3 linked regions of the Homo sapiens genome follow. The protein of the gene in region 3 interacts with the protein of the main gene of each other region in a pairwise test. Each region holds a gene or a part of one and is shown on either strand. Other genes may lie near its edges. The genes, in order: BATF3, CEBPG and DBP.

The links.
Region 1: the proteins of DBP (region 3) and BATF3 come close enough for resonance energy transfer, tested with the Homo sapiens proteins (one large-scale study listed by BioGRID and IntAct).
Region 2: the proteins of DBP (region 3) and CEBPG come close enough for resonance energy transfer, tested with the Homo sapiens proteins (one large-scale study listed by BioGRID and IntAct).

What each region holds. Positions count from the first base shown.
Region 1 is NC_000001.11:212,689,696-212,693,340, reverse strand, and holds part of BATF3 (basic leucine zipper transcriptional factor ATF-like 3), read left to right. Parts: intron 1-973; exon of another isoform or gene 974-1,077; intron 1,078-3,645. UniProt on the Homo sapiens protein: AP-1 family transcription factor that controls the differentiation of CD8(+) thymic conventional dendritic cells in the immune system.
Region 2 is NC_000019.10:33,376,564-33,379,947, forward strand, and holds part of CEBPG (CCAAT/enhancer-binding protein gamma), read left to right. Parts: intron 1-2,580; 5' UTR 2,581-2,676; coding exon 2,677-3,129; 3' UTR 3,130-3,384. UniProt on the Homo sapiens protein: Transcription factor that binds to the promoter and the enhancer regions of target genes. Binds to the enhancer element PRE-I (positive regulatory element-I) of the IL-4 gene. Binds to the promoter and the enhancer of the immunoglobulin heavy chain.
Region 3 is NC_000019.10:48,634,535-48,638,970, reverse strand, and holds the start of DBP (D site-binding protein), read left to right. Parts: upstream 1-1,591; 5' UTR 1,592-1,976; coding exon 1,977-2,115; intron 2,116-2,980; coding exon 2,981-3,391; intron 3,392-4,436. Other genes in the region: CA11 (carbonic anhydrase-related protein 11 precursor), read left to right, coding at 1-83, 827-852. UniProt on the Homo sapiens protein: This transcriptional activator recognizes and binds to the sequence 5'-RTTAYGTAAY-3' found in the promoter of genes such as albumin, CYP2A4 and CYP2A5. It is not essential for circadian rhythm generation, but modulates important clock output genes.

The sequences.
Region 1 (3,645 bases), on a different chromosome or scaffold from region 3:
AGCGGGTGAGGAAGCAGACGACTGGCTTAGGAAAATGGAAGTATATCCCAAACCTTCTGCAGAACCAAAGGAACATCATCTCTGAACCAAATCATTACTCACCACGTGAGTAATCCCTTCCCTGTTCCTTCCAGGAGGGCATTGTAGCTGTGTGTATCATTGGATGACTAAATCTACTATTGGAGGCAAGGTATCTGGTTTAAAAATGGTGTAAAGAACCCTTTTGTCAAGCTCCAGTGAGTTGAGCACAGAGCGCCTTGCACACTACTGCGGGCCATGACAGAAAGCCCCTTGGGACCCCTGGACCTCCCAGGCCAATCTAGGGTGGGGACACCATGCATAGGAACCTCCTCCTCAAATCTGGAGTGAGGCCAGCTCATTGGGAGACACCAGAGGGCCCAGAAAACAGCCACTGACAGCCACTGCCTGCTGCTCCCTGGAGACTGTAGCGCATCAAAGGGCTTTCTTCATGTGTTCCTCTATCCCACACTGCAGGGATTGCATTCCTGAATATCTCAAAGTAACTCAAGCTCTTTACTTGCATTTCTTGCATATCCTGAGGGGGGATATTTGGAGCAAACTTGTTTAAAGTTTCCACTTTTTGGTCAGGCACAGTGGCTCGTGCCTGTAATCCCAGCACTTTGGGAGGCTGAGGCGGGTGGATCACTTGAGGCCAGGAGTTCAAGACCAGCCTGGCCAACATGGCGAAACCCCATCTCCACTAAAAATACAAAAATTAGCCAGGTGTGGTGGCGTGCGCCTGTAGTTCCAACTACTCGGGAGGCTGAGGCAGGAGAATTGCTTGAACCTGGGAGGTGGAGGTTGCAGTGAGCCGAGATCACGCCACTGCACTCCAGCCTGGGCAACAAGAGTTTCCACTTTTCTCTCCTCACCTCACTCACATACTCTACCTATACTTGAGCCTCTGGTTTTTTTGGGTTTTTTTTGCTCTTTCGTCTTCCTGGGTTTTTAAAAAAATATGGAACACTTTATGAATTTGCATATTATCCTTGCTCAGGGGCCATGTTAATCCCTGTATCATTCCAATTTTAATGTATGTGCTGCTGAAGTGAGTACTTGAGCCTCTGTTGCCTCCAACACCCTGAGAAACTTGCCCCAGCTGCAGCTCTTAGGAGTTTTTCGGCCACCTCCCTCCCCTCCTTGTTCTCCATCTCCAAAGTCCTAGGAGTGTCCGTCAAGGCGAGCCCTCTGTGGAGGGGAGAATGGGGGAAGAGGCTGCACAGGCCAAGCCAGAGAGGCAGGGGCTGGGGTTCCCCTTCACGCAGAGTTTTCTGGGCAGTGGTTGCTGGCAGTTGGACTACGGTGATGAGAAGCAGTTCTTAACGTGTGTCTGTAGACCTCAGAGTCCACTGTGGGCTTTCAAATCATCCCTTCAACCCGCTCACACCTCCCGTGGGGATTTCGACCTGCATTCATCTCTGAACACTAGGCGTGTGCCAAAGTCCACACTGACAAATGAGAACCAAAGTGAACAGTCAGGGTCTCGTCTCATCTCACCCAGGCTGAAAGGTGGCTCAGAAGTGGGTCAGACTGGCTCGACCAGGCACCCCAAAGGTGTAAGACTGAGAAAGAATTTTGAGTCACAAAAGGAAAGCAGCAGTGCCATCCTCAGGAGCCCCAAATGTCACAAACTGACAAATGACTTGGGCAATGTGATTGTGGTATGTGTTGCCATGGTTTTTTCAGATATTGCATGTTCTGAGAGCTTCATGGCAGCACCCATGTGGCTTAGAAACTGATTGTGGCACTCATTTGTACAGCCCTTGCTGGTAACACAATTTTTCTGCTGGGAAGTGCATCAGTGAAGGCTTGGGAGTAGACTTATTCTGAAGTCCTGAGATCTTATGGCCTCTTACTTCTGGTAACCATCATGGGGAAATCTGGACCCAGGCACTGCTAACTAAAAGCAGAATTGTTGATGCTACAAGAGAGTTGCAGTTGACCTTGAAGTTAGGAGTCAGATCCCAGGTCTATGTGACCTTGGAAAAGTCACTGTACCTCTCAGAGCTTCAGTTTTCTAACTTGTGAAATGGGGTCTGTGTGTGGCTATGGCCTCCTGTTAGCCTGTTCCTACTTCTTTCTTTCTCACCTTAGTTGTCATATCTGGTCCCTGGTACCCACTTCTTTACCAGTCCTTGATCCTGTCTTCAGCCTCAGAGGCATCCTGGACCCTGCGTATCCCTAGGCAGCCCGTTGATCCCAGTCACCTGCTCCTAGATGCCCAGAACAGGGTTTCTCAGCCTCAACACTGTTTATGCATGGGGCAGCATAATTCCTTGTTGTTGGGGGCCTGTCTTGTGTGCTGCTGGATGTTGAGCAGCATCCCTGGCCTCTAGCCACATGATGTAGTAGCACCCCCGACCAGCTGCGATAACCCAAACTGTCTCCATACACTGCCAGTGTCCCCTGCAGACTGCCACAATTGCCCTACTTGAGATCCACTGCCTTAGGCAGCTTAATTTCTGAGGCAGAGCTGGGATCCACAGTGATTTCACCACCTCTAATTTTTAGGTGTCTGCTTTGAAACTGTCCCGACAAATACCCAGAGAGGGAGCACAGCAACCTCAAACCCTCCCATGGCAAAGGATTTGGAACTTGGCAGAATTCGAGCTAGAGGGGTCATATTTTTGGAAATAATGAAGGGTTTAATGTTCTTTGCTTGCTTTTTGTTTGCGTTTACTCCAGGAATTTCTTCTGGGTGTGAGGTGGGTTTCATTTCTTCCCCCTTTGCTGCTATTCAGTGTTCTCTGGCCTCTTCTTTCTTCCCTCCCAGCTCCTCTTGTTATTTTCAAAGGGCTCGTCTCACCTAAAGATTTTGACTTCTTCTCTTCTTGTTATTCCCTCAGCTCAATAAAAGTCCCTCAGCGGGTTTATGAGTAATGCTTAAATCCTAGAAGAGAAAGTCCTTATGGAGAAGGCAGATGAGGGGCCCGTGGGGCACCTGTCGGGCGGCTCTGAAGACTCTAAGCATGGGTTGGGGGAGGGCAGTGGACCTCAGGGAAGCCTCAGGCCACAGGGCTGCGCACGGCTTCCAGAGACAAAACTGGGAAGCTCAGAGCGTCTTGCTGCGGAATTCAGTATATGTAGAAAGGCAGCTTGGAATATTCTACCAAAGGAAGAGGGCTTCTTGTCCTTTGGAATCTACTTAAAATGTTAGCACATTGGAACTATTCAAATGTACTCTCCATTTTACTTGAAAGTCAAGGGCATTTCCTGCTGCAGGGTGGAGTGTGTGTGTGTGAGTGTGTATGTGAATGTGAATGTGGGGAGTCTGCATGTGAGTCTGAGTTTTTGTGAGTGTGTGTGACTGTGTGAGGTGTATGTATGTGTGTATGACTGTATGTGTGTGACTGTGAGAGTGTTTGTGTGACTGTGTGTTGATTGTGTATGTGTGTGAGAGTGTCTGTGGCTGGGTATGAGAGTGTGTTTGCAGATGTGTGTGTGACTGTGTGTATCTGTGTGTGTGTCTGTGGTTGTGTATGAGTGTGTGTGTGTGAGAGTGTGTGTGTCGGGCTGTGTATGAGAGTGTGTGAGTGTGTTTGCGGACGTGTGTGAGTGTGTGTATATGTGTATGTGTGTAAGAGTGTGTGAATGTGTATGAGAGTGTGTGAGTGTGTGTTTGCA
Region 2 (3,384 bases), about 15 Mb from region 3:
TAAAGAGTTCCTGGATGATGATGATGCTGGTCCAGGGACCACACTTTGAGAACCACTGCTCTTCAGCTTTCCTGCTGTTTCCTCCTTGAGTGATTCACATGGAAGGAAGCCAGGCGCCGCCCTGCATCCTGTAGCCTGAACTTTGGAATAGTGTTTGTCCACAGAGGAGCCAGACTTGAATTTAGGACTGAGTGTCCAGCTTTCAAATAAACACTTTTTGCCTGTTGTAGGTGTTCAGTAAATGTGTGTGGAGGAACAAAGCGTAAATGAGAGTGGCCTTTTCAGTGTAAAATCACTTAGCTCTTTGATCCCCTTTTACTTGGTTAATCTTCACTTTAAGAGCTATTTATATGGTTAAAGAACTTACTAAACAAAACATTCTTGGAGTTATTTTGATTATCTCCAAGTTTCTCTTTCTTACATTTTCACCAGTTTGTAGGTTCAGTGAATACTCTTTTCAGGCCAAAGGGCTTACCTTTAAAACCTCACCTACCACACACGTTCAGCCTAGTACCTTGCAAGATGAGTCAGGCAGAGGTGAAAAAGCCCTTCCCTGTTCCTGTATCTTTGGATACGGAAACAGGCGTGAACGTTGCTGAACGTGGACCCTGTAGTGAGTAAGAGCTGTTTGTTAGTGACTGAAGGTCGTGGTGTGTTGTCTGTAGGAAAGTGTCTTACTATTCCACATCCCTCATTTGCATGTGGGGAACAGACAGCCATGGAAGAAAAGAGATTTGCCCAAACTAAAATAGGGGGAGCCACAGCCAAGACAAGAACTGGCCTGGTCACTGGTCTCTACCGCTTTGGATCATTGCTATCTCTGAGCATGGACAAGTTGACTGTAGAGAGCTTTAAAGGCTAAAAATATAATTGGTATATTAAAAAAAAAGTAGAGAAATAAGGTGAACATGATTATGATTGTTAAGACAGTCTCAGGGGAGGTGTTAAACAAGTTCTTAAAAATTGAGTAAAGCACCTCTCACTTGACACCAAATGGATAATAATAATGTTAGGTGGCACTAAATGTGGCTCAGATTAATACTAAACAGCCACTTTTCTACTGGAAGAAAAATGAGGCAACCTAATGATGACCAAGGGAAATTGTGAACTGTCCATTACTGAAGATAGGCTTGGAGTGGATCGCCCTCATGGTTTGGAGGGATGCTTTTTGTCTTGCCTTAGTGTTGGCGTGAGAACAGATGACCTACTAGCTCAGAGTCGGCTGTGTGGCTTTGAAAACAATGGAAAGTAATGACACATGGACTTTTCAAAGCAAAGATGTTTTTTAAAAAGAGACCAATAAACAGTGTACAGAATTGCCTGGCTGAAGGTTTGGGTGTAGCTACTGGTGTTTGCTAACTGAGCTTTCCCTCATTGTGGGATCACTGCATAAATCTGACTCCAGATTTTTTCCACTGATGTGATTTTAGCAGTTTTGTGAAAAGAGAACAGGATAGTTTTATGTTCCTAACACTGCTTTCTAAATTTCTAAGAGTGCCCTGATTCCTTGGTGGACACCGTTCACTGAACTTAGTTTGTCTTGAAGTGGCCTCATGTTGATAGGATAGTCACACTTTTACACTTCTTGGGGCAGCTGTAGGGACTTAATTGGATTCAGAGTAATCCACATGTGACTGCTTTTCGAAACCGTGCCTTCATTTCTGCAGGCAGCAGCACAGGGATGCTTCAGAGCTGGTGCGTCCTCCGAGCTCACACGAGCTCATTTGGTAGCACGAAGTGGCCACAGGCACGGCAGCTGCTCAGCTCCTTTGTCCAGCCTGGGTCCCAGGACCCGCACTTCCTTGGATGCATCATGAGGGCTTCTGTTTCTTTCCTTGTGGTTTCAGGTTGAGTGTGTTTTGAGTTTTACTAATTATGTCAAGAAGAAAAAACACACTTTTTACAAGCTTGGTGGGATGGGGAGCAAATTGAGTGTCAGAGCTCCTAAATTCAAGAAACTGACTCAGTAAATTTGGTTAAACTGTGGAATTATCATTTGAGGTCATTAAAAAAATAAAGCAAAAAACTACCTTTTCAAAATATCCGATGAAGAGAGCTCTGGGAGAGAACTCAAGTCCTCGATGACTCCCTCTCTGCATATTAGAACATGGAACCCGCAGGGGTGATAGCATGAGAGCGCTGGAGACAGGGTGCGCAACCCCAGCCTTCTGTTTTGACTTGAACCAACAATGGAAACTTTTCCCCCCTTTCATTGCAGGTGTCTCTCCTACTACAGTCAGCTGCAGCTCCTCCCTGGGAGATTGTCAAGTGCTGTTAGTTCACATGCGCCACCTAATTAGTGGAAGTCTTTTGTTTTCCTCCCATTTTTGATAACAATCGCAGAGGGGCAGTGCCCTCAGGGATCCAGGTGGGCTGAGTTTCGCCTGATGGTGCTTCTGTGCTTACTTACCTTTCTAAGTGAAATGATTTAGACTTCAGAAACATTGGAACAGTTGGCAGTTGCTGTAGACTTTTCTCAGCAGAATCAATTAATGTTGGCCTGATGTTAGGTACGTACAAGTTTGATCTCATTTGATCCTGTCATTTCAAATATTTTAATGCAATTTATTTTTTAACTAGGTACATGTGAAGATTTTTTGGCAGCTTAGCGTGGAAACCATTGATCACCCTGCTCTCATTTCTACCTGTTCTGTGTTGGCAAGGGAGAGTGCCCAAATGAGCAAGATATCGCAGCAAAACAGCACTCCAGGGGTGAACGGAATTAGTGTTATCCATACCCAGGCACATGCCAGCGGCTTACAGCAGGTTCCTCAGCTGGTGCCTGCTGGCCCTGGGGGAGGAGGCAAAGCTGTGGCTCCCAGCAAGCAGAGCAAAAAGAGTTCGCCCATGGATCGAAACAGTGACGAGTATCGGCAACGCCGAGAGAGGAACAACATGGCTGTGAAAAAGAGCCGGTTGAAAAGCAAGCAGAAAGCACAAGACACACTGCAGAGAGTCAATCAGCTCAAAGAAGAGAATGAACGGTTGGAAGCAAAAATCAAATTGCTGACCAAGGAATTAAGTGTACTCAAAGATTTGTTTCTTGAGCATGCACACAACCTTGCAGACAACGTACAGTCCATTAGCACTGAAAATACGACAGCAGATGGCGACAATGCAGGACAGTAGACCTCACCCTTTCCAGACTTTAGAGCTTGTGGCTTGAATGTTAAAGGTGTGACCACCGACACCACTCATGTCAATGGCTGAAAGTTGTCCATTTCCATGACTCAAAGACCCATTGGAGGCTATTTTCTGGGATCAGCACTGAAGAGTTGATTAGCTAAAAATGTTAGCCTTGTAATTCGAATATCTGGTTTTAAATGATAGAGGTTTTTGTGGGAATCAAAATCCCCCAAATGTTAAGGTATATGGTAAAAAAAG
Region 3 (4,436 bases):
CTTGGCCCACAGGGCACTGAGGGGCAACAGGGACCCCCGGCACCCCGAGAGGCGCTGCCGAGGCCCCAACTACCGCCTGCATGGTATGGTCCAGTCTGCACCCCCTCTAAGTCTTGGGCTAACCCTCTTATATGTGTCTCCCCTTGGTGTCTCAGTGTGATTCAGTCCCATCCTCCTTCCTGCGTCTATATGGTCTAGCCTCGTGAGCTGTCTCTTTTTCTCTCTTTCCCTACATGTCTATGTGGTACAGTCCACCTGCCAGCCCTAGGCCATTGCTAGCCCACGATTTGTCTTTCCTCTTCACTGCTTTGTAACTTGGTCTATAACCCTTGACCCCTGCCTTCCTATGGTCCAATTACCTACTGTTCTGTGCTTCCTATTACTGTGAATTTCCAAAATGGTACAATTTGGATCCTCTCTCCCTTTCCAAGTCGTACTACCTTACGCTGTTCCACAATCTGATGCTCCCTTCCCCCTTACTGAGAATCTACAAGGTACAACCCCTTCCCTCCACCTCTGCCTCCCTGTGGTTTAGCCCAGGAATCTCACACACCCCCGGCTTCGCAACATGGTACAGTCCACACCCCCCCCCCCCCATGAAGACCTTCAAGTAGTTCAGCCTACTGCTGAATCTGGACGTCCCGATTCCCCCCTCCTATTGGCTTCTTGTGGTTCAGCCCAGTGCTTCTCGACCTAGTACATTCTGGTTCCCCGCTCGCAGACTTCCGACGGTAGGGCCCAGCGCGGCGCAGCCCACGCCCCCTGCACACCCCCCGCCCCTTCCATCCTATACTGACGCCCCCTGCCGTTGTTCTCTGTCTTACAGTGGATGGTGTCCCCCATGGTCGCTGAGACTCCCCTTCGAGGATTGCACCCGCCCGTCCTAAGCCTCCCCACAAGGCGAGGGGAGTTACCCCTAAAACAAAGCTATTAAAGGGACAGAATACTTCCTGTTTTCTCAGTGGTCTGATTCTAGGCGCGGTGGGGAAACATTTGGGTATTAAAGAACAGACTTCTTCCGGAAACCAATCTTCCTCTTTCTAAACCTCCGCTCTCGGTATTTTGGCTTCCTGCTTCTCAAAACCATCTTTAGGACCGCGGCCCCTTTAAGCGGCGCCCCTTTTCCCCCCATCACCCCCCTCGCCATCAGGCAGCACGAGCAGAGCCATGTGCTTCCCCCTCCCGCCTGCCTCATTGGCCCAAACTGGGTCACGGTCCCGCCCCCCAGTACCGCCTCCCATTGGGCAAATGTAGGTCAGTGTCCCGCCTCCCACCGAAAGGCAAGGCAACTTCACGCGCTGAGCCCCTCACGCGCCCTCCTGGGCCCTGGCGGACCCAGAGGCCCCATTGGCTGTGCGTCTCAAGGTGTCGGAGACGATTGGTCCGTGTTTGCAGCCGGAGGGAGGCACGCGGCTGGGTTGCATGCCCATAGAGGCTGGCGGGGCTGGACGCGCCGGGCGGGGACCCGGAGGAGGGGCGCGCGCTGTGGCGTCGGGTGTTTTGGTTTGGATTTTTTTTTCCGCGAAAGAAGTTTGCTTTGGCCACGCCTCAAGGCGGCCGCCTCCTCCTGCCCCCTCCTCCGCCCCTCCGCGCACACCTCTCGGTGCAGATTGCAAAGCGCCTTCCGTTGCGAGAGCTGCAGATTTTGCAAGAGCCAGGCTCGCCCACCTTGTAGAAGGAGCGCCTTGAGTCCCCTCTCACCCTCGGTTGCAAAGAGCCGACCGCTTGATCTGGACACCCCCTCGCCCAGATTGCATGATCTCCCGGGACCCTCTTGAGTTGCACGTTTCTGCACCGAGGACCTCAAATCCCCGTCGCTCCTAGGATTTGCAGCGTTCTGGATACTGGAGGGTTGCAGGCTACACTCGCCCGCCCCTGGGCAGACACTCGTCCAAACCACTGGAGTGTGCTGGTGACTGGCAGGCCAGCCCTTCGCCTCTCCATGAACCCGTGAGCCTGGGGGCAGGTGCCAGGCGATGGCGCGGCCTGTGAGCGACAGGACCCCGGCCCCTCTGCTGCTGGGCGGCCCGGCCGGGACACCCCCTGGCGGGGGAGCGCTGCTTGGGTTGCGGAGCCTTCTGCAGGGGACCAGCAAGCCCAAAGAGCCGGCCAGCTGTGAGTTCTAACCCCCATCTCACCCACTTCGGACACCCTACCCCCTTAGGGACTCAGGTGCCGTGGGGTGGGGTCCCATAGAAACCTGCGTGCGGGGAGTCCATCTTCCCAACCTTAATCTACTCAATTACTCAGGTGTTTAGGCCCCTAGATCCCTTAGCGCCCAGGACCCAAAAGCGCCGGCTCTGAAGCCCGTCCACCCTAAGGACCCAGGCACCAACGTCCCCAACGTCCTCCCCGCTTAGTTCACAAGAGTGTAGGCCCCAGCCTCCTCTTCCTTTTGGTCCGGGAGTCTGGACCCCTGGGGTCCCAGGGAGGGGGTGTGTCGGGTGCTCACACGGTGGTGACACGGGCTTGGGCGGGGCGTCATGGGGTCACATGGAGTCTAGGGATGAGGGATGTGCCCCAGGAATAGAGCCCCTTCCTGCCCCTTACAGATGGTGGGGGAGGGGAAGGGGGTACAGCGCGCAGGGGATGGGGGTTGGGTAATTACAGTGAAATTACAGAGCTGTCATTTTTTCTCTCACCTGCCCAACCCTCCACCTACCCTGTCCCTGCCCCCCTATTCCTGAACTTCCGTCTCTCTTTCTCTGGTTCGCTGTCTTTCTGTGTGTCTATTCCTTCCCGGCATTCTGTCCCCATCTCTGTGAATCTGTCCACCTGTCTCTGCCACCCCCGTCTCCATTCTTTCTGGGTCTCTCTCCCACTCTGCGTCTCCGTCCCTTTTTCTCCCGTCTCTCCTCTCCGACCCCCCGTCCCCTCTTTCTCTGGATCTCCGCCCTGTGCCTCTCGGACTCGGGGTCTCTTCTCCATCTCTATCTCCCCCACCTCACCCTCATCCCAACCCGTCTTTCCCGGCCCGCAGGTCTCCTGAAGGAAAAGGAGCGCAAGGCGGCCCTGCCTGCAGCCACAACCCCTGGGCCAGGCCTGGAGACTGCGGGCCCGGCGGATGCCCCGGCTGGGGCAGTGGTGGGCGGAGGGTCCCCGCGGGGGCGCCCGGGGCCGGTGCCCGCCCCGGGTCTGTTGGCGCCACTGCTGTGGGAGCGCACGCTGCCGTTCGGCGATGTGGAGTACGTAGACCTGGACGCCTTCCTGCTGGAGCACGGGCTCCCGCCCAGCCCGCCGCCCCCCGGTGGCCCGTCGCCGGAGCCGTCGCCCGCGCGGACGCCCGCACCCTCCCCAGGGCCGGGTTCGTGCGGCTCGGCTTCCCCCCGCTCCTCTCCTGGGCACGCCCCCGCCCGGGCTGCCCTCGGGACCGCCAGCGGCCACCGCGCAGGTGCGGCGAAGGGGGCGGGGCGGGTCCTGACGGGGCGGGGCTTGGACTCAGGGGGCGGGGCTGTGCGACGCTGGGGGCTGGGACCGTGGGACCTGGCTGCGGCCTCGAATTCTGTGTCCAGTTGTCGAGAGGTGTCGTGGGAGGGGGCCAGATTCGGTGTCTCTTAATGGGTCAGGGACCAATGGATCCATGGGGGAGGAGAGACTTGGAACCCTAAATTCCAGGAAGCCTGCCCAATGAGATTTTGTGGGTTTTTCTGTGGGACTTGGGGACAAACGATGTGGATACTCGTGAAGCCAGAACTGGAAGTCCGGAACACCAGAGTTATTTACTGGGGAGTGGACTGACCCCCGAATCTGGGCCCATAATCGATGGAACTGGGATAGGACTGGAGCCCCTAGGTCCTTTACAGGGGCAAAGGCAAAGGAGAGGCACAGAATTCTGTTTACCCAGGACATAAGAGACTGGCAGCCCAGGTCCCTGGGTCCCCCAGTGGGGCGTGCTGCAGCCCCGGGTCCCAGAGTTCTTCAGAAGGGAAAACGTTAGGGATGTTGTTTCTGGATCCTCCAATTGGGGCTGGGGCCAAGCTTCCTATATTCCTAGGAGAGGCCTGGGATCCCAGAATCGTGGTAGCCCAGTGGCGGGGGTTCTGGGAAGGTCCAGGAGGCCGATGCTCCCCGGAGAGCAGGGGGTTGGGAATCTTTGGAGGTTGAGTGGAACTAAGTGACTGGAAGAGCAAGAGGAAAGATGTTTCCCTTTGGGCACATTGAGGTCTCCAGGGACGGACTGCAGGTCGGGGATTCCTGGGCACACCTGCTCCAGGTCCGACCTCCGGGCCGAACCAGGGCCCTACCCTTCCCAGCGGCACATTCCTGCGCCACGTGAGTCCTCCCATCCCTCCTCCGCGCTTCGCGCAGGCGCCTTCAAGCGCGAGGGGGGCGGGGCCGGGGGAACGTGAGGGCGCCGATGGCGGGGGCCTGGGAGGAAGGGAGGAGGAGGGAAGCAGGCGTCAGCACGTGACTCGGCCCTGAACCTGTGTCCTTAG